4 separate regions of the Homo sapiens genome follow, and regions 2, 3 and 4 are each linked to region 1. The links come from fine-mapping of genetic effects on gene expression. A gene starts in region 1. Each other region holds a variant in brackets. All regions are shown on one strand. Distances are from middle to middle. Region 1 holds the start of ANKDD1A (ankyrin repeat and death domain containing 1A). Region 2 overlaps ANKDD1A (ankyrin repeat and death domain containing 1A). Region 3 overlaps ANKDD1A (ankyrin repeat and death domain containing 1A). Region 4 has its middle 27 kb from the start of ANKDD1A.

Evidence for each region. PIP is the estimated chance that this variant, and not a neighbour inherited with it, causes the effect.
Region 2: its variant is fine-mapped to the expression of ANKDD1A in NK cells (Gilchrist 2021, PIP 0.94).
Region 3: its variant is fine-mapped to the expression of ANKDD1A in whole blood (TOPMed, PIP above 0.99). The same link has a PIP of 0.9 or more in blood mononuclear cells.
Region 4: its variant is fine-mapped to the expression of ANKDD1A in whole blood (INTERVAL, PIP above 0.99).

What each region holds. Positions count from the first base shown.
Region 1 is chr15:64,907,715-64,914,866 of GRCh38, reverse strand. ANKDD1A (ankyrin repeat and death domain containing 1A) reads right to left here and starts at 2,965. Exons shown (of 15, transcript NM_182703.6): 1 at 2,903-2,965. The coding sequence starts at 2,936. RefSeq lists an enhancer at 2,210-2,753 and silencers at 2,940-3,119, 3,320-3,369, 3,443-3,737.
Region 2 is chr15:64,948,901-64,957,053 of GRCh38, reverse strand. It overlaps ANKDD1A (ankyrin repeat and death domain containing 1A), which reads right to left. Exons shown (of 15, transcript NM_182703.6): 14 at 7,082-7,213. Among named protein-coding and RNA genes, the nearest start is that of SPG21, 37 kb to the left of the region's middle. The variant G/T (reference allele first, on the strand shown) is at 5,207.
Region 3 is chr15:64,928,796-64,936,564 of GRCh38, reverse strand. It overlaps ANKDD1A (ankyrin repeat and death domain containing 1A), which reads right to left. Exons shown (of 15, transcript NM_182703.6): 7 at 5,645-5,743; 8 at 4,980-5,078; 9 at 2,331-2,429. Among named protein-coding and RNA genes, the nearest start is that of ANKDD1A, 21 kb to the right of the region's middle. RefSeq lists enhancers at 4,535-5,412, 5,652-5,751 and a silencer at 5,500-5,794. The variant T/A (reference allele first, on the strand shown) is at 2,455.
Region 4 is chr15:64,882,324-64,887,323 of GRCh38, reverse strand. No RefSeq gene overlaps it. Among named protein-coding and RNA genes, the nearest start is that of ANKDD1A, 27 kb to the left of the region's middle. RefSeq lists an enhancer at 3,047-3,266. The variant A/T (reference allele first, on the strand shown) is at 2,297.

The DNA.
Region 1 (7,152 bases):
GCTCCCCCTGCCAACCCCTGTCACGCACACCTGTGGGCTCAGGGTCAGACTGCATTAGTCTCTGAGCCAGGAGGACACAGGTCCAGATGATCCCCACCGGAGCCCCATGCTGCCATCATCCTGACGGCTCTTGATTGTGAGGATGTCTAGTCTCCATGGCTAGACTTCAAGTATTTTGGAGGCCCTGGCCACACTTGACCCTTCCTGATCCACCCACAGCTCACAGCAGGCCCAAAGGTGGGCACAGGAGGAACCCACAAAACTCTGCTTTTGAGCCAGGCATGGTGGCTCATGCGTGCAATCCCAGCACTTTGGGAGGCCAAGGCAGGAGGATGGCTTGAAGCCAGGAGTTCAAGACCAGCCTGGGCTAAAAAGCAAAACCTCCATCTCTACAAAAAAGTTTTTTTAAAAATTAGCCAGGTGTGGTGGCACATGCCTGTAGTCCCGGCTACTCAAGAAGCTAAGGCAAGAGGCTTGCTTGAGCCCAGGAGTTTGAGGCTGCCAATGAGCTATAATTGCACCTCTGCACTCCAGCCTGGGCAACAGAGTGAGACCCTGTCTCTAAAAAGAAAACAAAAACAGGCTGGGTGCAGTGGCTCACACCTGTAATCCCAGCTCTTTGGGAGGCCGAGGTGGATGGATCACGAGGTCAGGAGATCAAGACCATCCTCGCCAACATGGTGAAACCCCGTCTCTACTAAAGATACAAAAATTAATTGGGCATGGTGGCACACACCTGTAGTCCCAGCTACTCGGAAGGCTGAGGCAGGAGAATTGCTTCAACCTGGGAGCTGGAGGTTGCAGTGAGCCGAGATCATGCCAGTGCACTCCAGCCTAGTGACAGAGCGAGACTCCATCTCAAAAAAAAAAAAAGAAAACAGAAACAAAAAAATCTCTGCTTGTATGAGTGACACCAACAATCCCCAGACGAATAGATGCCTGTCCCCTCTCCCAAAGTGCTCACACATACTAGCACAGAGACAAATATTTGCTGGCCCTTTCCATAGTCACTGCAGGGCAAGTGACCCCATAGCCTGCATGTTTGGTCCAGTATGAATGTCTGAACCCAGCCCCTTTGTGTATCCAGGGACAGGTGACGAGTGTCTTGGTAGGGAAGGCTAAGATGCACTGAGGTGAGAGACAGGCCTGCCATGCAGTTTGTTTTTCTAGATAAATTCCACACAGTCTTCTCCAGATGAGAAAGAGGATCTTGAGCTTTCTGGGGCCTCATGGATACAACCTGTGGATCTCAGAGTTGCTACCCTGGGGGGCAATCACACAGTCCTGGGTTCAACTCTGGCTTAACCACTTCCTAGCTGTGTTAGGCAGTTTCCTCATCTGCAAAACAGGAGTGCGAGCTTCCCTACAAGGTTAATATCATGATTAGAAATGAGATATGAAAACCCCCTGGCACAGTGTCTGGCACATAATGACCACACCGCCACCACCACCACCATCATCATCACTATTATTCCTCCAAGGCAAAGGGTCAAATTCTGGTAGCCAAAGAGAGCTGCCACTTCAGATGTGAGCTTACAGAGGCCTGGGTTCTAGTACCTTCCCTGCCACTTTCCAGCAGCAGGATCCTGGGCTAGTCACATCCCCCTTGTAGGTCTGTTTCTTCCATTGTAAAACTGGGGGAGGGTGAAGAAAGAGATCTGTATAGGTCCCTTCCTGTCTGGCACCCTCTATCTTATGTGCAGCTTAGGGGGATTGGCCTGGTTTGTATTGGCAAACAGCCAGGAGTTCCAATGGGAAGCCAGCAGACACTGCATAGGGTCAGGCCAGAGAAGGTTAAGTTAGAATGAAATCAAGTCCAGTCTCATCTCTTCCATCCACCTCCCATCCGGCACCCTCTTTCTGGCCACATCCAATACCCACTGAGCTACCTGAGCCTTTGCCCATGCTGGGTCTTTGTCCAGAATTCTCTGCCACACACCCCAATGCTCCATTGGTACACATTCTTCGCAGGCCCACTCAAGTGATCCTCCGCCCCAGGCAGAACCATGTACCTAATCTTGATTGAGCATTCCCACCCCCAACACATCCCTCAGCTGAGTAGATGCAGTGTGCCAGCATTTTGGACACTATAGGTCTCAAAGGAATCCAGTGAGCTGCACTATGCGCTTTTGAGGGAAAGCCCCGGGATTCAGCTGTCAGGATTCAGCCAGGGCTGCAGGATCAAGGACTCACAGTGCAGACACCGACACAATCTTTCTCTCCCCTCTCCCAGACGGTGCAGCCAAAGCTGCCCCAGGCCAGCTGATGCCCACACAGACGCTGCTGCCCGGCCTAGAGGCCCTGGCACTGGGCGCACTCCTTGAGGGAGGTTCGGAGGTGCCCTCATTCCACCTGTGGCCAGTCAGGCTCCTCTCCTCTGAGTGCGTGCCCCATCTGATGCGGTCTCCACTCGCTATCCAGCCCCAGCATTCCGGGTGAGCTGGGCCCTTCAGCACTTCTACCACTCAATGGCTGTGTGACCTTGAACAACTCATTTGAACACCCTGTGCCTCAGTTTCTCATCTGCGAAATGAAGATAACATAATGTCCTACCCATATGGCCGCAGCGAAGATCAAATGACGTGCCTCTCCTGGGTCAAGGCCTGGCACACAAAGTACAGCACGCAGTCAAGGATCGCTATTACCTTTATTATTTGTAGCTAACCTCTCAGCCGCTGCTCCCCGCTCACCTGGCGGGTGTGGTCCCCGAGTCCCAGACGCACTGGCAAGGTCCCCTCGGCCCAGTGCGCGGACCGGTAACCATTCCGCTCGGAGCCACACAGACGCCCCACACGGAGGTGGCCGTTCGGAGGGCGCCAACCTCACCCCTGGCACTCCCCAAACGGATGCGGGGGTCCTCTCGGCCTCGGCCCGCCCCCCTCCCTCCTCCAGGCAGACTCACGGCCGTCGGTCTCCCACGCCAGCTCCTCCTGCATCCTGCCGCTCCGCAGCCCCTGCGCGCGCTGGTGCCCGGGCGCGAGGCGCGCGTCCGCCGGGGCGGGGCCCGGGGAGCCGAGAGGACGGGGCGGTCGCTCCTCCAGACTCCACGCCCCGCCTGCTAGGAGCGCAGCTGCCCCGGCCACCCCAGTCCCGGACCAGGACGCAGGTCCCTCCTCCTGCTCTCTTAACCTGCCCACCCCTCCGCGCCCGAGGCCGGCGGGTCGGGGCCACGCCGAGTTCCGCAGGTGTCCCTGACCCAGTCTCCTCCCCGGGAGTTCGCCCAGCCTCCCCGGCCCTGGAGATAGATGCGCACAAGGCATCTGGCAGGCTCATCCTCCTCGCGCCTCTCGGGACTCGGGGAGGAGGGCTGAGCCTTGGGCCCGCCGCCTCAGGCGCAGAAAGTCAAACCCCAAAGATGTGAGCTGGCGTTTAAGGGACCACAACCTCAGCAGGTCTGCAAGCATATGAAGAGATGGTCGGATTTATCAGTGTTCAGAAAGATTTATCAGGCCCATAAAGGGACATGTAGGAGGATGTTGGTTGCTGTGTTGCTGTGGTTGCTGGGAGTTGGAGACAATCTAAGCGCCCTTTCTTGTAAGAGCAGATGGATAAACTGTGCAGCACTCAAAGCAAGGGACCCGCTGTATTCGTGGCAATATGGATTTAAACACCTAGTGCTAGGCAGAAAAAGTAAATAACCAAACCAAATAAGACCTAGGAAACAATATCAATAAAAATATTACAAATGCATTTACATCAAACAACACAGACTTGCAAAGACACATAGAAACAAAAAGATACACATTAAATACACCAGAATGGGTTGCACTTCAGACCCTTGGGGGATGTCCATGTCCTTTTTGCCTTAAAGGCATTTACAGCTTCTTTGAATTTAGGGATAATGGGGTCTCAGGCATCTCTATCCCAAGGCAAGAAGCCAGCAAAGCCATGATAGGTGTAGTTACTACTACTTTGGGGATCAAAGGAGGAAGAGCATCTTTCAGTCATTAGTCCTTAGAATATAGTTCAAGAAGGCTTCCTGAAGAAGGAGGTATTTGGAATGGCCTTTGAAAAATAACATAATGATAACAGCTAACAATTAATGAGCCCTGAGCCAACCCCTCAAAATGGTCTCAAAATAACAATTCCAACATAATAATCAAAGATATGATTTTTTTTTTTCTGAGACAGAGTCTCACTCTTTCGCCCAGGCTGGAGTACAGTGGTATGATCTCGGCTCACTGCAACCTCTGCCTCCTGGGTTCAAGCAGTTCTCCTGCCTCAGCCTCCCATGTAGCTAGGATTACAGGCACTCGCCCCCACACCTGGATAATTTTGTATTTTTAGTAGAGATGGGGTTTCACTATGTTGGTCAGGCTGGTGTTGAACTCCTGACCTCAGGTGATCCACCTACCTTGGCCTCCCAAAGTGTTGGGATTACAGGTGTGAGCCACTGCGCCGCACCCCCCCCTTTTTGTTTTTGTTTTTTTTTTAAGACAGAGTCTCACTGTGTTGCCCAAGCTGGAGTGCAGTAGCGTAATCTCAGCTCACTGCAACCTCTGCCTCCCAGGTTCAAGCGATTCTCATGCCTAAACCTCCCAAGTAGCTGGGACTACAGGTGTGTGCCACCACACGCGGCTGATTTTTGTATTTTTAGTAGAGACGGGGGTTTCACCATGTTGGCCAGGCTGGCCTCGAACTCCTGACCTCAGGTGATCTACCCACCTAGGTCTCCCAAAGTGCTTGGCCACCACGCCTAGCCAAAGATATTATTCCTGAAAACAGTTTAAATGTTTTTTGTAAAGCTTTTGTCACATGTACATCCCACTAGGGGCATAGTGTCACGTTACTGTTTTAGTCACTTGGAATAGTTCTTTATGTGGTTATGCCACCAACTCAACATGCATGGTTTATTTATTTTGTTTTGCTTTTGTTTTTTGATATTTTTAAATGTTAATTTTGCTTTACAATTATGTAAAGTATTTACATGTTTCAAAGTTAAGTCTCTGAAGGTTGTCATAGTCAGCTGTGGTGATGGATGAAGAGGGCACCACTGGCTTCCAGCCTGCTGTCACTCTCCTTCACTCCACATCCAGCTTTTCTTCCCAGCTGCTGAGCCTGCTGACCAACAGTGGCCCCAGGCCATCGCGGACTTGGCTGCAGACCCAGGGCATTAGTACCACCCATAGACCTCCCCAGGAGCTTTCCCTTGTGGTTCCATTTTAGCAGCTGGACATACTTGGTTTCTCAGATGACTGACTAAGGACTCCTCTGATCCCCAACTCCCCTTCTGGTCCTTCCGCAACTGTGTAAGGCAAATTACTATCACAGATCCCTAATCCCAGGGGTCTCCAACCCCCAGGCTTCAGACTAGTACTGGTCTATGGCCTGTTAGGAACTGGGCCACACAGCAGGAGGTGAGCAGCAGGAGAGCGAGCATTACCACCTGAGCTCCGCATCCTGAAAGATCAGTGGTGGCATTAGATTCTCATAGAAGGGTGAACCCTATTGTGAACTGTGCATGTGAGGAATCTAGGTTGCACACTTCTTTTTTTTTTTTTTGAGATGGAGTTTTGCTCTTGTTGCCCAGGCTGGAGTGCAATGGCTCACTGCAATCTCTGCCTCCCGGGTTCAAGCAATTCTCCTGCCTCAGCCTCCCATGTAGCTGGGATTATAGGTTTGCGCCACCATGCCCGGCTAATTTTGTATTTTTTTAGTAGAGATGGGGTTTCACCATGTTGGTAAGGCTGGTCTCAAACTCCTGACCTCAAGTGATCCACCTGCCTCGGCCTCCCAAAGTACTGGGATTACAGGCGTGAGCCACCATGCCCAACCTAGGTTGCACACTTCTTATGAGAATCTAACTAATGCCTGATCATCCGAAGGGGAACAATTTTATCCCAAAACCATCCCCCCACCACCCAAGTCCTGTAAAAAATTGTCTGCCACAAAACTGGACCCTAGTGCCAAAAGGTTGGGGACCAGTACCCTAAACCCATAACCTCAACATGATTCTGCTTCCTTCACTGCATCCTGACTGACAAAATAACATTTGTGTTGTTGATGCTTACCCTTATATTGTTTAATTTAATCATATATTCTCCCTTTACTGCAGTAGCATACTATATATCATCTTCTTACTTTGCCCTGCCCCTTAAAATTCACCCATTTAAGTGTATAATTCAATGGTTTTTAGTACAGTATCGTTCAGAGTTGTATAACTATCACCACTAAATATTTTCATCACCCCAGAAAAGAAAGCCCATATGCTTTAGCTATCACCCCCCCTTGCAGTTTACCCTCCCCAACCCTCCACACACAGCCCTAGGCAACTACAAATCTACTTTCTTTCTCCATAGATTTGCCCGTTCTGAACATTCTTCTGGCTTTATTCTGGGAACAATCTACTACAGAGATCTCTCCGCAGTAGTCTGTTGAGATCTTCCTGCATCCTTTGTACAGCCTCAGAGTCCTCCATTGGGTGGCTTATTCAACCACTCCCTGTTGATGGACATTGGCCCTGTTTCCAGACTTTTGTTATTACAATAGAGTTACAATGACCAACCTTATGCATGCATCAGTTGGTATTTTTACCAGTGCATCTATGGGATCTATTCTTATAAATGGGATTGCTTGGTCAAAGGGTAAATGCACATATAACTTTGCTAGCTATTGCCAAATTCTCCTCCATAAGGTCCAGAAATATTTTGCATTTCCATTACCAATGTATGAGGGTGCCTGTTTCCAAGGAGAACATTCTGTAAAACTTGGATTTTTCCCAATCTGATAAGTAAGAAATAGTAATTCATTATAATCTTAGTTTGCATTTCTATCATTACAAGAAAAGTTGGTTATCTGTTTCTATGTTTAAGAGCCGTTTTCTTTTCTTTTTTTTCCTGAGAACAATCTGTTCTTATCCCACTCATTTTTTAAATGATTGTTGGCCTTTTGCTTAAGAGAAATTTTAAAACAGCTTTTTATTTCTTGTCTTATTAATGTTTGTTCATTACTAAAGAAATTTTAAAATACAAAGAAGGGGCTGGGAGCGGTGGCTCACGTCTGTAATCCCAGCACTTTGGGAGGCCGAGGTGGGAGGATCACGAGGTCAGGAGATCAAGACCATCCTGGCTAACATGGTGAAAACCCATCTCTACTAAAAAAATATATATATATAAAATTAGCCGGGCGTGGTGACGGGTGCCTGTAGTCCCA
Region 2 (8,153 bases), 42 kb before region 1:
ACCCTTAAAGTGTAGCTCAGAAAGATTTAGAGTAAGAGCATACATTTAGCTCGCAACATATATGTTAGGAAACAAAAGAATGCTGATTAAATATAACTTAGTGGTAGGTAAAGTTGTCTATTTTTTCCCTATCATATATCATAACGTAATAGATCACAAATATGTTTTAGAATTTTTCTTAAGTTTTAAGAATCCAAAAATGGCTGGGCTCCGTGGCTCATGCCTGTAGTCCCAGCACTTTGGGAGGCTGAGGTGGATGGGTCACCTTAGGTCAGGAGTTCAAGACCAGCCTCACCAACATGGTGAAACCTGTCTACTAAAAATACAAAAATTAGCCGGGCATGATGGTGTGTGCTTGTAATCCCAGCTACTCCGGAGACTGAGGCAGGAGAATTGCTTGAACCCAAGAGACGGAGGTTGCAGTGAGCCAAGATCACACCACTGCATTCCAGACAGGGCAACAAGCGTGAAACTCTGTCTCTTTTTTTGTTTGTTTGTTTTGAGACAGAGTCTTGCTCTGTCGCCCAGGCTGGAGTGCAGTGGCACAGTCTCGGCTCACTGCAAGCTCTGTCTCCCGGGTTCATGCCATTCTCCTACCTCAGCCTCCCAGGTAGCTGCGACTGACTACAGGTGCCCGCCACCATGCCTGGCTAATTTTTTGTATTTTTAGTAGAGACAGGGTTTCACTGTGTTAGCCAGGATGGTCTCGATCTCCTGACCTCGTGATCTGCCCGCCTTGCCCTCCCAAAGTGCTGGGATTACAGGCATGAGCCACTGCGCCCGGCCAAGCTAAACTGTTTCAAAAAAAAAGAAAAAAAAAAGGAATCCAAAGAAAAAAATACATCACCTGCAAAAGGTGAAGAGAGAAAGGAAGCTTTTTCTCTAAAAATGGTGCAGCTATCCTCTGAACCAATTTCCTTCGGTTTAATGTACCTGTATCTTGGGGTTTTTTTCCACTTAATTTATCCTGGAGCTCTTTCCATAACAACACTTGGAAAGCACTCTCATCCTTTTTTCACTGCTGAACAGAATTCCACTGTGTGGATGGAACATACTCTATTTCACCAGTCCCCTGTAGCCAGTCACTTGGTTTGTTTCCAATCTTTTGCTTTTTCAGAGTAATAACCTTGTATGTCTATCATTTTGTATGCATACAGGTTTATATGTAGGAAAAATTCCTAGAGTAGGATTGCTGGACCAATGGATAAAAGTATATTGTGGACAGACAATGCCAAATTGCCTTTCAGAGACTGTGGCCCTGTGCACCCCATCAGGCATGTGTGACTACCAAAGCTCCTGTCAGCTGTTTTATTTTATCTCCTTTCCAGTCTCAGGCTCAATGCAGAACTTTGAGGTAAGCTTTTCTAAAATGTAGGCTCCTAAACGCCACAGCCAGCTCTGCCACATGAAGGAGAGCTCAAATGAGACAGAAACAGCCTCTGGGCAGGATTTCTATCCTGCACAGATATATTTTCCACATTCTGGGAAACCGTGAAGCTTCCAGAGCCACAATTCCCCAGAAACACATCCCCCTGCTGGTACAGCCAAGCCCCAGAACAAGCTGTGCTTGCCTGGCACCTCAAAGCCAAGCACCATGGATGCCACTTGCTATGGGTGCCTGCAATTTCAAATAATGAGAAATAAGAAATTTCAGCTTCTCAGTCCCTCTAGCCAACATTTCAGGTGCATGACAGCCTCAGGTGGCAAGCAGCTACTCTGCCGGACAGGGCAGAAGATGGAACACCCCATCCCTGGGGAAGATCACGAGGTCAGGAGATCAAGACCATCCTGGCTAACACAGTGAAACCCCGTCTCTACTGAAAATACAAAACATTAGCTGGGTGTGGTGGCAGGCACCTGTAGTCCCAGCTACTCAGGAGGCTGAGGCAGGAGAATGGCGTGAACCTGGGAGGTGGAGGTTGCAGTGAGCCAAGATTGCGCCACTGCACTCCAGCCTGGCAACAGAGTAAGACTCCATATCAAAAAAAAGAGAAAAGAAGAAGAAAGAAAGAAAGAAGAAGAAGAGGAAGAAGAAGAAGTGGAAGAAGAAGGAAAGAGGAAGAGGAGAAGCAGGAGAAGAACAAGGAGAAGAAGAAGGAGAGAGAAGAAGAGACAAGAAGAAGGAGAAGAAGGAGAGAGAAGAGACAAGAGAAGAAGGAAGAAGGAGGAGGAGAAGGAAGAAGAAAAGGAGAAGAAAGAAGAAGAAGGAAGAAGAAAGAACAACAAAAAGAAGGAGAAGAACAAGGAAGAAGAACAACTAAGGAGAAGGAAGAAGGAGAAGAAGAAAGAAGAACAAAAAGAAAGAAGAAGGAGAAGGAAGAAGAAGGAGGAGGAGAAGGAGAAGAAGAAGGAGAAGAACAAGGAGAAGGAGAGAAGAAGAAGAGACAAGAAGAAAGAAGGAGAAGAAGAAGGAAGAAGAAAAGGAAGAAGAAAAGAGGAAGGAGGAGGAAGAAGGAGAAGAAGGAAGAATAAGGAAGAAGGAGAACAAGGAGAAGGAAGAAGAAAAGAAGAAGGAGAAGGAGGAAGAAGGAGAAGAAAGAGGAGAAGAAGGAAGAAGAAGGAGAAGGAAGAAGAAAAAGAGGAAGAAGGAGAAGAGGGAAGAAGAAGAAGGAGAAGACGACGAACGAAGGAGGAGAGGAGGAAGAAGAGGAAGGAAGAAGAAAGAAGAAGAAAAGAAAAGGAAGAAGAAGGAGAAGAAGAGAAGAAGGAGAGGAGGAAGAAGAAGGAAGAACTAAGAAGGAAGAGAAGGAGAAGAAAAGGAGAACTAAGAAGGAAGAAGAAAGGAAAAGAAGGAGAAGAAGAAAGAACTAAGAAGACGAAGGAGAGGAAGAAGAAGAAGAAGAAAAGAATAAGGAACAAGAAAGAAGGAGAAGAAGAAGAAAAGAAAGAAGAAAGAATAATAAGGAACAAGAAGAAAGAGGAAGAAGAAAGGAGAAAAGAAAGGAAGAAGAAAAGAGGGAGGAGAAAGAAGAAGAAAAGAGGAAGAAGAAAGAAGAAGGAGAAAAGAAGAAGAGGAAGAAGAAAGAAAAGAAGAGGAAAGAAGGAAGAAGAAAGGAAAGAAAGGAAGAAGATAGAGGAAGAAAGAAGAAAAAAAGAAACAATAGAAGAAGAGGAAGAAAAGAAAAAAGAAAAAGAGAAGAAAGAAGAGGGAAGAAAGAAAAGAGGAAGAAGAAAGAATGAAGAAGAAAGAGGAAGAAGAGGAAAGAAGAAAAGAAGAGGAAAGAAGAAAAGAATAAGGAAGAAGAAAAAAAGGAAGAAGAAAGCAGAAGAAAGAAAAGAGGGAAGAGGAAGAAGAACGAAGAAAAGAGGAAAGAAGAAGGAGGAGAAGAAGGAGAAGAACAAGGAGAAGAAGAAAGAAGAAGGGAGAAGGAGAAGAAAAGAAGGAGAAGAAAGAAAAGAAGGAGAAGGAAGAGGAAGAAGAAGGAAGAAGAAGAAGAAGGAGAGAAGAAAGAAGAAAAGGAGAAGGAAGAAGAAGAACTAAGAAGAAGGAGGAAGAAAGAAGGAGAAGGAAGAAGGAGAGGAGAAGAAGGAAGAAGGAGAAGGAAGAGGAGGAAGAACTAAAGAAGAAGGAGAAGGAAGAGGAAGAAGAAGAAGGAGAGAAGAAAGAAGAAAAGGAAGGAGGAGGAAGAAGAAGGGAGGAGGAGGAGAAGAAAAGGAGAACTAAGAAGAAGAAAGGAAAAGAAGGAGAAGAAAGAAGAACTAAGAAGAAGGAGAGGAAGAATAAGAAGGAAAGAAGAAAGAAAAAAGTAAAAGAAGAAGAAAGAAGGAAGAAGGAAAGAAGAGGAAGAACTAAGAAGAAGAAAGAGGAGGAAAGAAGAAAGAAGAATAAGGAACAAGAAAGAAGGAGAAGAAAGAATAAGAAGAGGAAGAAGAAAAAGAAGAAAAGAAGGAAAGAAGAAAGGAGAAAAAGGAAGAAAAAAGGAAGAAGAAAGTAGAAAGCGGAAGAAAGAAAAGAAAGTATAAGAAGGAAGAAGAAGAAAGAAGGAAAGAGGAAGAAAAAAGAGAGGAAAGAAGAAAGGAAGAAGGAGGAGAAGAACAAGGAGAAGAAAGAACTAAGAAGGAGAAGAAGGAGAGACAAGAAGAAAAGAAGAAGAGGAAGAAAGAGAAGGAAGAAGAGGAAGAAGAACTAAGAAGAAGGAGAAGAAGAGAAGGAAGGAGAAGGAAGAAGGAGAAGAAGAAAGAGAAGAAAAGAAGAAGGAGAAGAGACAAGGAGAAGAAAGGAAGAAGGAGGAGGAAGAAGGAGGAGAAGGAGAAGAAAAGAAGAAGGAGAAGGAAGAAGAAAAGAAAGGAGGAGGAGGAGAAGAGGAAAGAAGGAGGAAGAAGGAGAAGAAGAAAGAAGAAAGGAGAAGAACTAAGAAGAAAAAGGAGAGGAAGAAGAAGAAGGAAGAAGGGGAAGAAGAAGGAGAAGGAGAAGAAGAAAGAAAAGACGAAGAAGGAGAGGAGGAAGAAGAAGACGAAGGAAGAAGAAGAAAAGAAGGAGAAGAAGAACGAAGGAGAAGGAAGGAGGAGGAGAAGGAGAAGAAGACGAAGGAAGAAGAAAGTAAGAAGAAGGAGAAGACGGTGACGAAGGAAGAAGAAGGAGAAGGAAGAAGGAGAAGAACTAAGAAGAAGAAAGGAGGAGGAGAAGAAAACTAAGAAGGAGAAGAAGAAGAAGGAGGAAGAAGAAAAGAAGGAAAGAGGAAGAAGAAAGAAGAAGGAGGAAGAACTAAGAAGAAGGAGAAGGAAGAAGGAAGAAAGAAAAAGAACGAAGGAGGAGGAGAGGAAGGAGAAGGAAGAAGAAAAAGAAGGAGAAGGAAGAAGGAGAAGAATAAGAAGAAGAAAGGAGGAGAAGGAAGAAGAAGAAAGAGGAAAGAAGAAGAAGAAAAAGTAGAAGGAAAGAAGAAAGAAAAAGATGAAGAAAGAGGAAGAAGAATAAGGAAGAAGAAGAAAGAGAAGAAAGAAGAAGAAAAGAAGGAAGAAGAGGAAGAAAAGAAGGAAGAAGAAGAAAGGAAGAACTAAGAAGAAGAAAGAAGAGGAAAGAAGAAGAAAAAGAAGATAGAAGATGGAAGAAGAAAGAAAAGAAAGAAGAATAAGAAGGAAGAAGAAAGAAGAGCAGAAGGAAAGAAGAAGAAGAAAAGAAAGGAAGAAGAGGAAAGAACAAGAGGACGAAGAGAAAAGAAAAAGAAAGAAGGAAAGAAGAAAGAAAAAGAAGAGGAAGAAGAAAGAA[G/T]AAGAAAGAATAAGAAGGATGAAGAAGAGGAAGAAAGAAGAAAAGAGGAAAGAAAGAAGGAAGAAGAAAGGAAAGAAGAAGAAAAGGAAAGAAGGAAGAAGAGGAAGAAGGAGGAAAGAAGAAAAGGGAAGAAAAAGAAAATAAGGAAGAAGAAGAGGAAGAAGAAAGAAGGAAAGAAAGAAAAAGAAGATAGAAGGAAAGAAGATAGAAGAAGAAAAGAAGAGAAGAAGAATAAGGAACAAGAAGAAAGAAGAAAGAAAAGGAAGAAGAAGAAGAAAGAAAAGAAAAAGAAAGAAGAGAAGAAAGAAGAGGGAAGAGGAAGAAGAAAACAGGAAGAAGGAAGAGGAAGAAGAAGAAAAGAAGAGGAAGAAGAAAAGAAAAAAGAGAAAAGAAAAGAAAGGGAAGAAGAAAGAAAAAGAAGAAAAGAGGAAGAAAAGAAAAAAGAAAAAAGAGGAAGAAGAAAAGAAAAAGAAAGAAGAAAGAGGAAGAAGAAAGAAGAGGAAAGAAGAAAGAAAAAGAGGAAAGAAGAAAGAAGAAGAAGAGAAGAAGAAGAAGAAGAAAAGAAAAAGAAGAAGAAATAAACAAAGTGTGCCAAGAGCTCAAAAGGACCATACCTGTTGGACGGGATTACAGGCCCTTGGACCCATCCTCATGAAAAAGATCAGTGTACAAACATTTGCCTCCTGGGCTCTGCATGACTGTGCATTTCAGTAGAATCACCTGGAGGTCTGTTAACAGTGATTTTTTAAAAAGCCCTTAAATGATGGTCATCTTCTGTTCAGGTGGCTCCACACGCTGAGGTCCCACGTGCCTGAAGGTCTGGCCCCTCCGGTTACATGGCTGTGCACCTCCTGGGGGCACTCGGGGCTGCGTTTGCTTTCTTCCTGATATTTTCTGTTAAAAACAAGAATCTTACTTCCTCTGTTGCCTAAGCTCTGCCTCACAGGACTGGTTTTATGTTTTAATTGCATGCCACAGTTTGTGTTAAAAGATGTAACAACTATATTTAAGAACATTTTGGGGAAAGAAAGGTAGCGTCCCTAATCTCTCTACCCTGAAATGAGTCTTAGCTTTTCCACCTTGCCTATAGCAGCTATGGGGGGGGGGGGGGGGGGGGGCGGTCCTTTCTTTTCCCTCAATAATATGCTAGAAACATTTCCCTCAGCAATATACTAGAAATATGTCAGGAGTGGTTTTCTTTGTTGCCTCATATCTAATGGAGACTTCACAACTATCAGTGGCTGCCTAGTGCCCCATTCTGTGGTTGCCCCATTATGTACCACGTCAGTGGGTATCACAGCGTTTAAGGCTTTTTCATCATGAGCTGATTTTGTTTTTAATGAGGGATTAGTACTAGAACCTTCTATCCTGCTTGTCTGATGATTCCACAGAACACTGAATCCCATATCAGGCTTTTGAGATTGGCATACTCAAATAAGTTGTGATGACCTCAGAAGGTTTATTTGACCAGATTTGACTGGTTCAACTCATATTAAGTCAGTTTTGGCTCCTATGTCTTAATGTTTGTGAAAAAAGTCTGGAGGTGGTTCCAGGCTTATTCCAAAATGGAAAAAAAATGTCAAGGTATAGAGGGCTGGTAAGGAAGAGATTATGGACAGCATCACTGGCTCCGGGGCTGTGAAGGTCACAGGGTTCAGTTTGGGCCAACACCCTCATTGCACAGATGGGGAAACCAGGGCCAGGAGGCACTGTAGTTTGCCCAAGGGAAAAGAGGGCAGGGCTAGGGGTAGGAATCTGGAAGGCCTAGAGCCAGCATCACAGCATTCTTGTCTGAGCAGCCCTTGGAGGGCCCTGCTGCATTCCAGTGGGGGCCACCCAGCTCCTGAGAAGCAGCCCAGCAGAGTACGCTCTTACCAGCCAGGTCCCTCCTGCCAATGGCCACGAGGCCCTCGAACAGCGCTTTGCTGGGGTTCTCACCAGCCGTGGCCACGCCATGCAGCCAAATGAGCAGCATTCGGTGGCCGTGCTCCTGATAGCTCCTGGTGCCTGAGAACAGTGAGGGAGGAGAGAGAGAGGGAGAAGGAGCCAATGGGGCCACTTGACCAGAGCGCCTGTCTATGCCACCCTGCACCGCCTCCTGAACATGCCCAGGTGGGAAAGAGGCCAAAAGCCTCCAAGGCCCTTCTCCATGCTCCAGCCAAGCTCAGCCTGGAGATAGGTAAGGGGAGTGGAGGAGCAGCCTCTCAGATGGGGAGGGAAGGGTTTGTGTCTTGGTCTCTAGAACCTCCCCAGCCCCAGGCCTTCTCCTGAACACCCACTATGCACTCTGTTGGTGTCACTCTGAATGGAGAAAGAATTGACTTTCATCGTTGTGGTACCATGATGCACAAATTGTATACTTCACCTCTCTGGCTGCTCAAAATAATCTGTGTCTTGCATGATAGTGGTCCTAATTTACAGATGAGAATACAGCTTAGTCAGAGATGGAGCTGGCCATGCTTTCCCCTGCACCAGTGGTTCTCAGACTCAGCTGCTCCTTGGAAACACCTAGGGCCCATGTCACCCCCAGAGATTCTCATGTACCTGGGACTGGGTGCAGCCTAGGCATTTAACGGTTTCAAAATTTCCCAGGTGGTTCCAACATACAACCATGTTTGGAAAATAATTGCCCACACGGCATGGGGTTAACATGTTATTCAGCTGGCTGTGATTCAGCTGGCTCTCCAGTGCTGTGGAAACAGACAGATGCTGGGCCACGCCCATCAGGTCCAGGTCACTCCATTCGCCCCTCTGACCTTCCGTGCCCCTCTTGGGGCCCTCAGCAGGCATGTCCTCACGGTACTGCCCTTGGTGTGGTGGCACTTCCGCTTGACCCAGCAGTCTCAACACCATTTATTAACTATCTCTGCCCCCGCCACTGTAATGTACAAGTGCTTCTTTATCATATATGAAAGTTCTTATCCGTAGCAGCGTTTACTTTTGAACT
Region 3 (7,769 bases), 21 kb before region 1:
ACCTGGCAACGCCTTCACTTTTTATGAATGTGTCTTTTGACACTGTTACTACCAGCAAGTTACTTTTGGTATTAAAAACAAAGCAAATACAACAAATAAAAGTGACACAATTAAATAAATAAATAAATAGGCAGCAAAAACAGCTAAAATGAAAAGGAAAACAACATACTAAATGAAGGTAACAGGAAAACTTCTTAGTTTGACCACTGGGCTGGCATCAGGATTCTGGTGTCTTGATGGGCAGAAACAAGTAAGCATTTAGCCTGAATTCTTTCTAGCTGGAGGTGATACTATTTACATGGGGGAAAATGGGAGGGCATTAAAAAAAAGTCCTTGCTTTTCTAGGGCTTTGGAATCAAGGATGCCTTTCTTCTCTATATTCCAATGAATTGTGTAATGTTGTTTTTATAATAAGTTTAAATATAGTACTTGTTTTAGCTGTAAGAAATGACCCCTTTCTGATTTAAACCATAGATGTTTCCCTGTTTATGTAATGGGAATAATAATAATAGTACTTATAGGTAAGGAAACAGGCCCAAATAGGTCAAAGCAGCTTGCCCAGGATTATTCAGTTTGTAGTACCAGCATACAAAGCCAGGCCTAACACCAAAGCCTCTTGTTTTTAAATTTTAATTATTTAATTCAGCTTGATAGTTATTGTCAACTTGCCTTCTAGAAAGATAGTCACCATTTGAAACTCCCACTACTTTTTTTTTTCTTTTTGAGACAGTCTCACTCTGTTGCCCAGGCTGGAGTGCAGTGGAGCGATCTTGGCTCACTGCAACTTCTGCCTCCTGGGTTCAAGTGATTCTCGTGCTTCAGCCTCCCAAGTAGCTGGGATTACAGGGATACACCACCATGCCTGAGTAATTTTCTTTTCTTTTTTTTTTGAGGCGGAGTCTTGCTCTGTCGCCCAGGCTGGAGTGCAGTGGTGCGATCTCGGCTCACTGCAAGCTCTGCCTCCCGGGTTCATGCCATTCTCCTGCCTCAGCCTCCTGAGTAGCTGGGACTACAGGCGCCTGACACAAAGCCCGGCTAATTTTTTGTATTTTTAGTAGAGATGGGGTTTCACCATGTTATCCAGGATGGTCTCGATCTCCTGACCTCGTGATCCGCCCGCCTCGGCCTCCCAAAGTGCTGGGATTCCAGGTGTGAGCCACTGTACCCGGCCACACCTGGCTAATTTTCTATATTTTTGTAGAGATGGGGTTTTGCCATGTTGCCCAGGCTGGTCTCGAACTCCTAGCCTCAAGCAATCTGCTCACCTTGGCCTCCCAAAGTGCTGGGATTACAGGCTCACGCCACCATGCCCAACCCAATTTTTTTTTTTTTTTTTTTTGAGACAGAGTCTCACTCTTGCCCAGGCTGGAGTGCAGTGGTGTGATCATGGCTCACTGTGGCCTCAACTTCCTGGGCTCAAGCAGTCCTTTAGCCTCAGCCTCCCAAGTAGCTAGGACTACATGTGTACACCACCATGACCAGCCAGTTTTTCAAAAAAAATTCTGTAGAGATGGATCTCCCTGGGTTACCCAGGCTGGTCTTGAAGTCCTGAGATCAAGCAATACTCCAGCCTCGGCCTCCCATAGTGCTGAGATTACAGGTGTGAACCACTGCACTCCCAAAGTCTGTGTTTTAACCAAAAGATTATACAGTTCCTGTGTGTGGACCAAATGTATAACAGTAAAAAGATTAACAATTAAGTGGACAGATAGGCAACATAAAAGATTAATAGTAAAACCCAATGCCTAGGCTTGGCACAGTGACTCATGCCTGTAATCCCAGCACTTTGGGAGCCTGAGGCTGGCGAATCACTTGAGTCAGGGGTTCAAGACCAGCCTGGCCAACATGGTGAAACCCCAGTATTTTTCTACCAAAAATACAAAAAAAAAAAAAAAAAATTAGCTGGGCATGGTGGTGTGTGCCTCTAGTTCCAGCTATTCAGGAGGCTGAGGCAGGAGAATTGCTTGAACCTGGGAGGCAGAGGCTGCAGTGAGCCGAGATTGCAACACTGCACTCCAGCCTGGGCAACAGAGCAAGACTCTGTCTCAAAAAAAAAAAAAAAAAGAAAAGAAAAAAAAAAGCCCCAATGCATAAACGAGCAGAGAACAGGAGCTAATAATTCAGTTCAGAGGAATTGCAAGCAAGCTGGGTTTCTAATCCTATTACAGCTACAACAGTATTTCACTCTCCTAAGTGCTGCCGGCTCCCCTACTCCTGGTCCGCACCCCAACCCCAAGGATCCGATGTGCCTGTTTCTCCCTGTGCTTCATCAGTGTGCTCATGGAAGGCTTTGCAATGGAGACCCCCTTCAACACTCGCACCATACTTACATGATCAACCACGTTGGCGCAGCCTCCTGCGTGGATGAGGACCCGAGACACATCCTCCGAGCCACTGAGGGCTGCATAGTGAAGGCAGCTTAGGTTTTTCTAGAAGGAAACAGGCATCAATGCG[T/A]TATCACAAGGACCCCTCCTACTGAGGTTTGCAAAGCTCTTCGAGATTCATTTTTCCATTTGAGTGTCACAACACCCCTGGGAGTATTATCCCCATTTAACTGAGGCTGGAAAAATCAATGACTTTCCCAGGTCTCATGACCAGTAAAAGGAACTCATTATGGTCTCAGTCTTTTCCTCACCTCCTATCACAAACTCAAGAATTCAGACCAAAGCCTGCCCAATTCTATGGCTGGTAAAGACATGCAGATGATAGACTTTTTTTTTTCCCGAGACAGAGTCTCACTCTGTCACCCAAGCTGGAGTACATGGCACAATCTCGGCTCACTGCAACCTCCACCTCCCAGGTTGAAGTAATTCTCCTGCCTCAGCCTCCCGAGTAGCTGGGATTACAGGTGCCTGCCACTACGCCCAGCTAATTTTTGTATTTTTAGTAGAGACGGGGTTTCACCATGTTGGCCAGGCTGGTCTTGAACTCCTGATCTTGTGATCCACCCGTCTCAGCCTCCCAAAGTGCTGGGATTACAGGCGTGAGCCACCGCACCTGGCCAGGAGGTGGTTTTTAAAGAGGAAGACAAATAAGATTTGCCAATACAGAGCAAACTCCACCCAGCATGCACTGCCCAGCACAAGCTGGTCTTGGTGCCTCCAAACAGGATCCTGGCTGGGCTAGAATGGAGGCTTGATCTTGGTGGGCCTCAAAGGGCTCTCTTTCAGTCAGTGCCCAACCTGGCCCAGTGATCACCTTGCACAAGGCACACACCAGGCAGGCCCCACTAGGGTGACCCACCACTGTCTCAGTTTGCCCAGGATTGAGGAGTTCTTGAGATGTGGGACTTTCCATTTTAAAATCAGGACAGTATGGGGCAAACCAGGACTAGCTAGCCACCCTGCTAAAGTCCCAGCTGAGCGAGTACCTGGGGTGTGTGGGACTCAGTCCATCTCCCAGTGGGAAATGCAGTCACCGTGGGCTTGGCACCTCCTCCGAGACCCTGTGGCATGACATTCTGAGAGGGGTGGGAGTGTTGAAATGGAACGTGGCCTCTGCCAGAAACCACAAGCTGAGGTTGGAGCAAAAGGCCTGGCGTGATGAGCAGCTCCAGCCCCCCACCCAATGGCCACCCAGCTGGGTGCAACCTTCCCAGTCTTTTTTTTTTTTTCTTGAGACAGGGTCTCAATCTGTCACCCAGGCTGGAGTACAGTGGTGCAATCATAGCTCACTGCAGCCTCAAACTCCTGGGCTCAAGCAATATTCCAGCTTTGGCCTCCCAAAGTGCTGTGTTACAGGCATGAGCCACCTTGCCCAGCCTACTTTTCTTTTCAAAGCCAGTCAAATTAAGCAGTGGGGAAATAAATATTTTTTAGCATAACATTTTAATTCTCTGTTTTTGAACTGCCTGTGTGTTTTTGCTATTATTATTTATATTGTATTATTTATTATTAATATTTTTGCTATACTATTGACATTTAGAACAAAGCAAGAATTCCAGAACCTGAAGCCATTCAACCAGCCAGAAAGGTTATTTGTCACTGATTCAAAAATAAAAAGCAAACCCAAAACACCAACTCACTACCTAAAGAAAGGCCACAACCCCGCTTTCCAGGTCATAGAGGAGAATTTTTACTGGCAGAACTGATGAGTACAACGGGGAGAGAGAGAAGAGGTTCATCCAGGGTCACACCTCAAGCCCCAGCTCTGTCAGGGGAAAAGCTTCATCAGTGGGTGGGAGCTCTGGAGTCAGGGGAAAAGGCTTTTGAGACTCAGCTTTGCCTCGTACTAGCTTGTGACCCTGAGAAAGTGCCCTCAAAGCTCCAGTTTTCTCATCTGCAAAATGGGTGGAATTTTTCTGGGGTAACAGTTATGAAGGGGCTTTGTGAACGATCAAGAGCTCAACAAATAGAAGACACTAACAGGGCCAGGTGCAATGGCTATCCCGCCTATAATCCCAACACTTTGGAAGGCTGAGGCAGGTGGATCACTTGAGGTCAGGAGTTCAAGACCAGCCTGGCCAACATGGTGAAACCCTGTCTCTACCCAAAAAATACAAAAATGAGCCGGGGGTAGTGGCACACACCTGTAGTCCCAGCCTCTTGGGAGGCTGAGTCAGGAAAACTGCTTGAACCCAGGAGGCGGAGGTTACAGTGAGCCAAGATCGCACCATTGCACTTCAGCCTGGGCGACAGAGTAAGACCCATCTCAAAAAAATTAAAACAAAAAAACACTAACAGGTATTGAGGTGTTGGGCCCTATTATGTCCTGGGCACTGTGTTAGGTATTTAATCCTCACAACAATGTAAAAAAGTAAATGTCACTGCACTTTATAGTTGGGAAACAAGGCTCAGAGAGGTTAAGTAACTTGCTCCAGGTCACAGGGCTCAGCAGTGGAGAAGCCAAGATCAGAACCTTGTCTGCTGCCTCGAAGCCTCTATTCACTCAGGGTTCAGGAATCCCTGTGGCCGTTACTGCCGACATGGCTATGGCTCAGCAGCCAAGAGCCGACCGCAGTCTTGGGAGGGCCTGGCTACCTGGGTGAGGGCATTCACGGTGCTCCCAGCCCTGAGGAGGAGCTGCACACAGTCAGGGTGGGATCCTCCAGCAGCCGAATGCAGGGCAGTCAGACCTTCCTGCAACACACAAGAAGAGCAATGAGGATGGTGGGGAGGCCCACCCCCAAGTGACCCCCAATCCCACGGTGAGAGGATGCCCCTTGTGCCTTGGCCCCAGGACCCCTTGAGCTCTCCACTGCCCTGCCCCTGGGAACAATGAACTTTCTTGTTTGTGATTCCATGAGCCCCACCCCTGAAGTCCTCACTTTATGGAGCACACACATGGCATAGTCACTCCTGGCTCCACATCTCTGCTCATGTTCTGCCCCGGTCAGGCTGTCTCAGCCCCTCCCCTCTATTTCCTTCTCCTCCAGCAAGCCCTCCCTCACCATCCTGTCCACGGTGACGTCTCCCTTCTTTGAACACACACTTTCTGTCTCACTTCTGGGGTGAGGCATCATGCCAAGTACTACCATTAAGCCTGGAGTTCAGTGCTGCTGCTTGTCTTTCCCTGGTGGGCTCTCAGTTCGAGATCATGCCCTCAGCCTTCTGGCTTTAGACTTCACCATGGACTGGTGGGGGTTCCTCGAAGGCAGAGAGCAAGCAAGGGTCATGCATCTCGCCATCCCCAGGCGGTGACTCACCGCATTCTGCTCCTCCAGGTCCAGCCCGATGTCCACAAGTCGCTGCAGCACAGCCATATGGCCCCGACCAGCAGCCAGATGAAGGGCAGTGTTCCCCTCCTGCAGGAAAAAGGGCTCCTGAGAGGCCAGCAGACCAGAGAGTCCCAGAATCACAGACCTGTGATGAGCTGCAGCCATGCACACTGGGTCAGTGCCACCCTGCTCCTGACAACTGGGCCAAAAACTATAACCAGGGGCAGATTCAAGGGCCAAGCCCTGGTCTTTCTTTCCTTATACTTCAAGGCAGGCACATTGCTTAAAAATTAAACAAATCCAATTCTACTTTCCACGTGCCCATCTGAAGCCGGTCCCTCCTCATGTCCCCCAGATCCATCTCCTCTCACGGCTCAAGGCCCCAGCAACTCTCCCCTGCGCTCAGGCTGTTCCAGGCAGCTGCTTGGCTCAGTCACCTGCCTCCCTCAAGTCTTTGTGTGAGACGTTAGTTTCTCATTGAGTAGCATGGCCTGCCCGGGCCACACTGAAACTACAACCCCCACCTCTGTCCTCCTGAGACTATTTTTGGGTCCTGCTTTTCCTTTCCCCACTGCACAGATCACCTGCTAACACACTCTGTCACTGGCTGAGTGCTTAGTATTTATTGTCTGACTTTTTTTTTTTTTTTAATTTTACTTTAAGTTCTGGGATACGTGTGCAGAATGTGCAGGTTTGTTACATCGGTAAACGTGTGCATTGGTGGTTTGCTGCACCCATCAACCCGTCACCTAGGTATTAAGCACTGCATGCATTAGCTATTTGCCCTGATGCTCTCCCTAACTTTGCCCCCCTTCAACAGGCCCTGGTGTGTGTTGTCCCCCTCCCTGTGTCCATGTGGTTCTCATTGTTCAGCTCCCACTTATGAGGGAGACCATGCAGTGTTTGGTTTTCTGTTCCTGTGTTAGTTTGCTGAGGATGATGGTTCCTGGCTTCATCCATGTCCCTGCAAAGGACATGATCTCATTCCTTTTTATGGCTGCATAGTATTCCATGGTGTGTATGTGCCACATTTTCTTTATCCAGTCTATCATTGATGGGCATTTGGGTTGGTTCCATGTGTCTGACCCTTCTTGCTGGAACATAAGCACCACAGGGGCATCTATTTTGTTCTCTGAAGTTTCCTTAAGTGCCTAGAATAGGGCCGGGGGTACATGGCCAACACTCAGTAGATATTTGTTCAATGAGTCAATAATGTAGGAGGGTCTTCAGGTGATCATGTGGAGAGCTTGACATGTGTCCCTGGGACTTGAGGGCCAGAGGACTGGTAGTTGCTTTGCACTTGGAAAGTCTAAAGGTGACAGTGACATAGCCAAGAGAAGCAGCTGCATGGGGCAGGGCAGAGGGCGCAACGTACTTTGTATCAGAAGTGGCCCCTGCTGAGGTCAGCCTGCGTGGGGTTGTCCTTTAAAGGGATCTCCCTGCTGGGCATGGTACCTCACACCTGTAATCCCAGCACTTTGGGAGGCTGAGGTGGGCAGATAGCTTGAGCCCAGGAATTCCAGCCTGGGCAATATAGTAAGACTCCGTCTCTACAAAAGATACAAAAATTAGCCAGATGTGGTGGTGCGTGCCTGTAGTTCCAGATACTGGAAAGACTGAGGCAGGAGGATTGCTTGAGCATGGGAAGTTGAGGCTGCAATGAGCTGTGATTACGCCACTACACTCCAGCCTGGGCAACAGAGTAAGATCTTGTCTCAAAAAAAAATTGAATTCAGCTAAAAATAATAAAATTTTAAAATAATTTTAAAAAGCCCTCAACAGCTTTGTTTTTCTCTCCTTGCCAGCTTCTCTGCAGCCTATAGCCTGCAGGCTGGCTGCTGCGAGCCAGGACAAGCGGTGGGAAATGCAATCACAGCGTGAAATCTCTGTGTTCAGAGACACGCAGGAAGCAGGTGAACCATGAAGGGCCAACACATGCCCCCAGTTAGCAGGGTGTAGAGACCGTGGCAGGGCTTTCTTCTTCCTTCTGGGTTATAAATATCCATGTCCTGCCATTTGAAGCTGCAAGTGGCACACATGGATGCCTGACAGGCGCTCGCACTTTCCTGGGCAGGGCAGGGGGCTCAGAGGCAGGACAGCTGGGCAGAAGGCA
Region 4 (5,000 bases), 26 kb after region 1:
TATTTACATGGCTTAGCCTACTGCGAAAAGCTATCCTTGAAGGATTATCAGTCACCTATACCTGAGTGTGAGGGAGTTTTTGATCCTTGTGACCTTGTACCACAAATATTTTCTCATTTACCATCTCATTTAGTGCCTGCCAACTAAGAGCAGATATCATTGTCCTCATTTTACAGCTGGGGAGACTGAAACTCAAGGAGGTATGGTGATGGGTTCTCAACCACACCTGTGGGCAGTCCCCTGGCCAGCATCCCAACCAACTCCGCTTTGGGTCAGCCACTCTGTCCTCAACACCAGCTTCTTTCTCATGGCCTTTCTCCCAGAGCACATCTCCATAGAAGGGAGGGGAGCCAGCAGGGGGACCCAAGGCCCCGGGAGAAGTGGCTGAAAGAGAGAAGAGAAACTATATGGACATTCGCCTGGAGTCCTGATTTCTTTTTTTTTTTTTTTTTTTTTTTGAGACGGAGTCTTGCTCTGTCACCCAGGCTGGAGTGCAGTGGTGCGATCTCGGCTCACTGCAAGCTCCGCCTCCTGGGTTCATGCCATTCTCCTGCCTCAGCCTCCCCAGTAGCGGGGACTACAGGTGCCCGCCACCACACCCGGCTAATTTTTTGTATTTTTTAGTAGAGATGGGGTTTCACTGTGTTAGCCAGGATGGTCTTGATCTCCTGACCTCGTGATCCGCCTGCCTCGGCCTCCCAAAGTGCTGGGATTACAGGCGTGAGCCACCGCGCCTGGCCTGGAGTCCTGATTTCAAACCATGAGTCCTTGTCGGGCTTCCAGATCTGCACACAGGAATGTAAGGGCCGCCCTTCATAAGAACAAGATAGCTGTCTTGTGTCCTCTCCCCCAGCCCTCTACCGCCAGCCTTTTTTCTGGCCAAAAGGCCCTTGGCCAGAATAGTCCTTTAACTATTCTTCTTACGACATTGTCTAATTATGATGATTAGACATAAGTATGAAGAAAAACATGCATTTTTTTTTTTTGAGACAAAGTCTCACTCTTGTCCCCCAGGCTAGAGTGCAATGGCACAATCTCAGCTCACTGCAACCTCCACCTCCAGGGTTCAAGCGATTCTCCTGTCTCAGCCTCCCCAGTAGCTGGGATTACAGGCACCTGCCACCATGCCCAGCTAATTTTTGTATTTTTAGTAGAGGCGGGGTTTCACCATGTTGGCCAGGCTGGTCTCAAACTCCTGACCTCGCGATCCACCCGCCTCGCCCTCCCAAAGTGCTGGGATTACAGTCGTGAGGCACCACGCCCGGCCAACATGCAGCTTTTAAGTTAAACAATGTATATGCCTTTTCTGGGGGAAGACTTTTCAACTGAGGAGCTGTGGGTTGCTCACTGTCCAGGGATGTCACAGAGTTGAATTTTATGCAATTAAGTGAAATAATCAGATCAGCACTCAACTTTCTGATGTGACTGGAAAATTGTCTTTAAAAAATCAAAATCTTTTTTTTTTTTTTTTTTTTTTGAGACAGAGCCTTGCTCTGTCACACCCAGGCTGGAGTCCAGTGGCGCAATCTTGGCTCACTGCAACCTCCACCTCCCCTGTTCAAGCAATTCTCCTGCCTCAGCCTCCCGAGTAGCCGGGACTACAGGCGCATGCACCACAATGCTCGGCTAATTTTTGTATTTTTAGTAGAAATGGGGTTTCACAATGTTGGCCAGGCTGGTCTCGAACTCCCGACCTCAGGTGATCCACCCGCCTCAGCCTCCCAAAGTGCTGGGATTACAGGCACGAGCCACTGTGCCCGGCTTTTTTTTGTTATTTTTTTGTTTTTGAGGCAGGGTCTCATGTCACCCAGCAGACTGGAGTGCAGTGGCACAATCATGGCCCACTGCAGCCTCAACCTCCTGGGCTCAAGGCAATCCTCTAACCCCAGTCCCCTGAGTAGCTGGGACTACAAGTGCATGCCACTATGCCTGGCTAATTTTTTATAATTTTTGGAGAGATGAGGTTTTGCCATGTTGCCCAGGCTGGTCTGAAACTCCTGGGCTAAAGTGATCCACCTGCTTTGGCCTCCCAAAGTGCTGGGATTATAGGAGTGAGCCACCGCACCCGGCCAAAATCCACATTTTTAAAATGTGGATATATCCTAAAATACTGCAGGGAAGACCTAGATCAGGGGTTCTTAACCTCTTTTGTGTGTGCCATGGCCTCCTTTGTCATCTGGTAAAAACTTGCAGACCCCTTCTCAGAATAATGTTCTGAAATGCACAAAATAAACTAGCATAGGCTTACAAAGAAAACCAGTTGTATTAAAATGTAGTCATCAAACAATTAAAAAAA[A/T]TTTTTCGACATAGTACTAGATAGTGCTTCCTAATTAATGCCTGAAGATCAAGAGCTAATAATAGGTCCAATAACTGCTGTAATTTTGAAATAGTGATGAGTATAAACCATATTTTGAAATATCTTCAAAAACCGTTATATGATTTGAAAATATTTGTAATTGCTAGTGACATCATCACGAGTCCTGCTAATACTGCTGTGGTTTGTTGCCTACATTCATCGTTGAAGAGAATGCTAAAATTCAGGTAGAAATTAGTGAAAATAAAGATATATATTTTTTCTCTTCCAAATTTTTAGACTCCTTGAACTCTATCCTTTGATCTTTCGGGTTCCCTTAGATGCCAGATTAAGAACTCTTGTTCTAGTTCTATCTTATATTTTATAGCATGTATATGTAATTATATCCAACAATTACAACAAATACCACAATGCAAATGTATCCAGATTTTGTGGTTTTCAAAATCTGATTAAATTTACCAATAAATAAAGTGCCTGGCAGGTAGTAGGTCTCGATAAAGGGGTGTCTCTCTGCCCAGGGCCTGGGACTCCTGCTGTAGTTGCGCTGCTCATTCTTCTAGGGACGCCCACAGCCTGCTTGGCACTGGGCCAGGCCTTTCCCCACTGTTAGCAGCTTTTATGCCCCGATGCCACACTGCTGCCACTTGGCAGGTGAGAAATCACATTAGGTTTGGGGATATTTTGACTGCCCCTCAACCCTGGGAGGAGGGTGGCTTCATAGCCCAGCCTTGAAGAGCCCCAGGCTCTTTCCCCTAGGGCCCCAAGCTGCCTGCATCCCGGGAATCCCCTGGAAGCCCTTTGCGCCTGCTTCCCCTCTTGACTCATCTGAGGTCGGATGAGGAGCAGTCATGAGCCGCGTGACAAGGTCAGTGCTGACAGGCTCACAAGATGCCCTGAGCGCCTCCCAGGAGAGCTGGCAGGTCCTCAGAGCAGACAGGGCAGACAGATCCTAGAGGAGAAGTCCACTCCAGCCCCTCAGGCTTCAGAACAGGGCCGGAACAGAATTCAGGTTCTGGCTCCCAGAGCTCATCCTCCACCTCTCCCTGCTTCCAGGCTACCCTTTCCCCTGCCCAGATCCTCGATTCCCTGGGGAGTCCTGCTCCCCTCTAGCCAAGCTCTGCCATCCACCTCTTTCTTCAGAGCCTTTCCACCTCATCATCTGCCTTCTTATCAAAATCTGCCTGTTTTGTGTCCCATCAGCATCTGCTCCCAAGGCAACTCCCAGTTATCAGGGGTACATGCAATGTGGAGTAGAAAGACCTGTATTCAAGTGTGGGCTCTGATTGGCAGAGGAATTCCTCTGCCTCTCAGGGCCTCACTCAGTGTCCTCATCTATTCCATGGACACATTTAAATTGCTGCCCTAACTTTCATAGTTGTTATGAGGAGCAAACCCATTTTTCGCTGTGAAATCACTTTATAAACTGTAAAGCACTTTCATAGCTGTGATTTGGGACTCATGGCTGGCAAGTTGTTTGGCGTTTCACAATTATCAAGATCCCTCTGGGGAAATGATACAAAGGAATGGTTTTAGTGGTGGAGTTTCCAGCAGATAGGGAGATCCGTATAGCCAGAGGGCCCTGCCACATATTCCTACCTCCTCCCCTAAACCATGTCCCAAGACGTGGCCTTATAGGCAGTCTCGTCTTGAACATGCTGAGAGTTTGAAATGACCCCTCTGAACCTAACACAGGAAATTGACTGGGGAAGTGTTGGGGTTCATGCAGACTTGCTTCTGCTTTAGATGTGATTCACCCAGTTTGTCTTAGCCACAATTGTGGAGTCAGTCAAGAGAATGGTAGGAGGATGAAACATCTGTTTCTGAGGAAGAAAGCAAGCTAGGACAGGTAGATAGCCCACTGCAGGGGCAGAGCCTGTGGCTCACAGAGGGGCATTTTCGTTTTTTTTTTGTTTTTTTTTTTTGAGATAGGGTCTCACTCTGTCACCTAGGCTGGAGTGCAGTGGCATGATCTCGGCTCACTGCAACCTCTGCCTCCTGGGTTCAAGCAATTCTCATGCCTCAGCCTCCTGAGTAGCTGGGATCACAGTCACGTGCCACCACGCCCAGCTCATTTTTTTTGTACTTTTAGTAGAGACGGGGTTTCACCATGTTGGCCAGGCTGTTCTCCAACTCCTGACCTCAAGTGATCCACCCATCTTGGCCTCCCAAAGTGCTGGGATTACAGGTGTGAGCCACCGCGACTGGACATGGGAAGGCATTTTCAAACGCTTGCTTGGCTTGGGAGCCTGGAGTGTGACCTGCCAGAATCCTGCAGGGTTTAGCACCAGAAGGCTTGGATTCCATACCGCGCTCTGCCACACCCAAACTGTGTGCCCATGGGAGGTCACTGGCTGTCTGTGGGCCTAGGTTTTCTGTCTGTTACAGCTCTGCAGTAATTCCCAACTCAACAGGGTCTTATGAGGATTCATGGGCTCACAAGACACAGAAATGCCTACATTTATGTTGGGGAGTAAAGTGCCCAGCTGTGGCACTGCCACCCAGCCCAGCACATATCTAGGTTTCCGGAGTGTCTGTCTCCCCACTGGGCTGACTCTTGCAGAAGAGAGTCACATGCTGAGACCTGTGGGTGTTCACTCTGCACAGTGGCTAAACGAAGGGAGGGAGGGCAGTGTACCCGCAATCATCATTCCAGAGCTCATGCTGTGTCAGGGCCAGATGCCTGGTA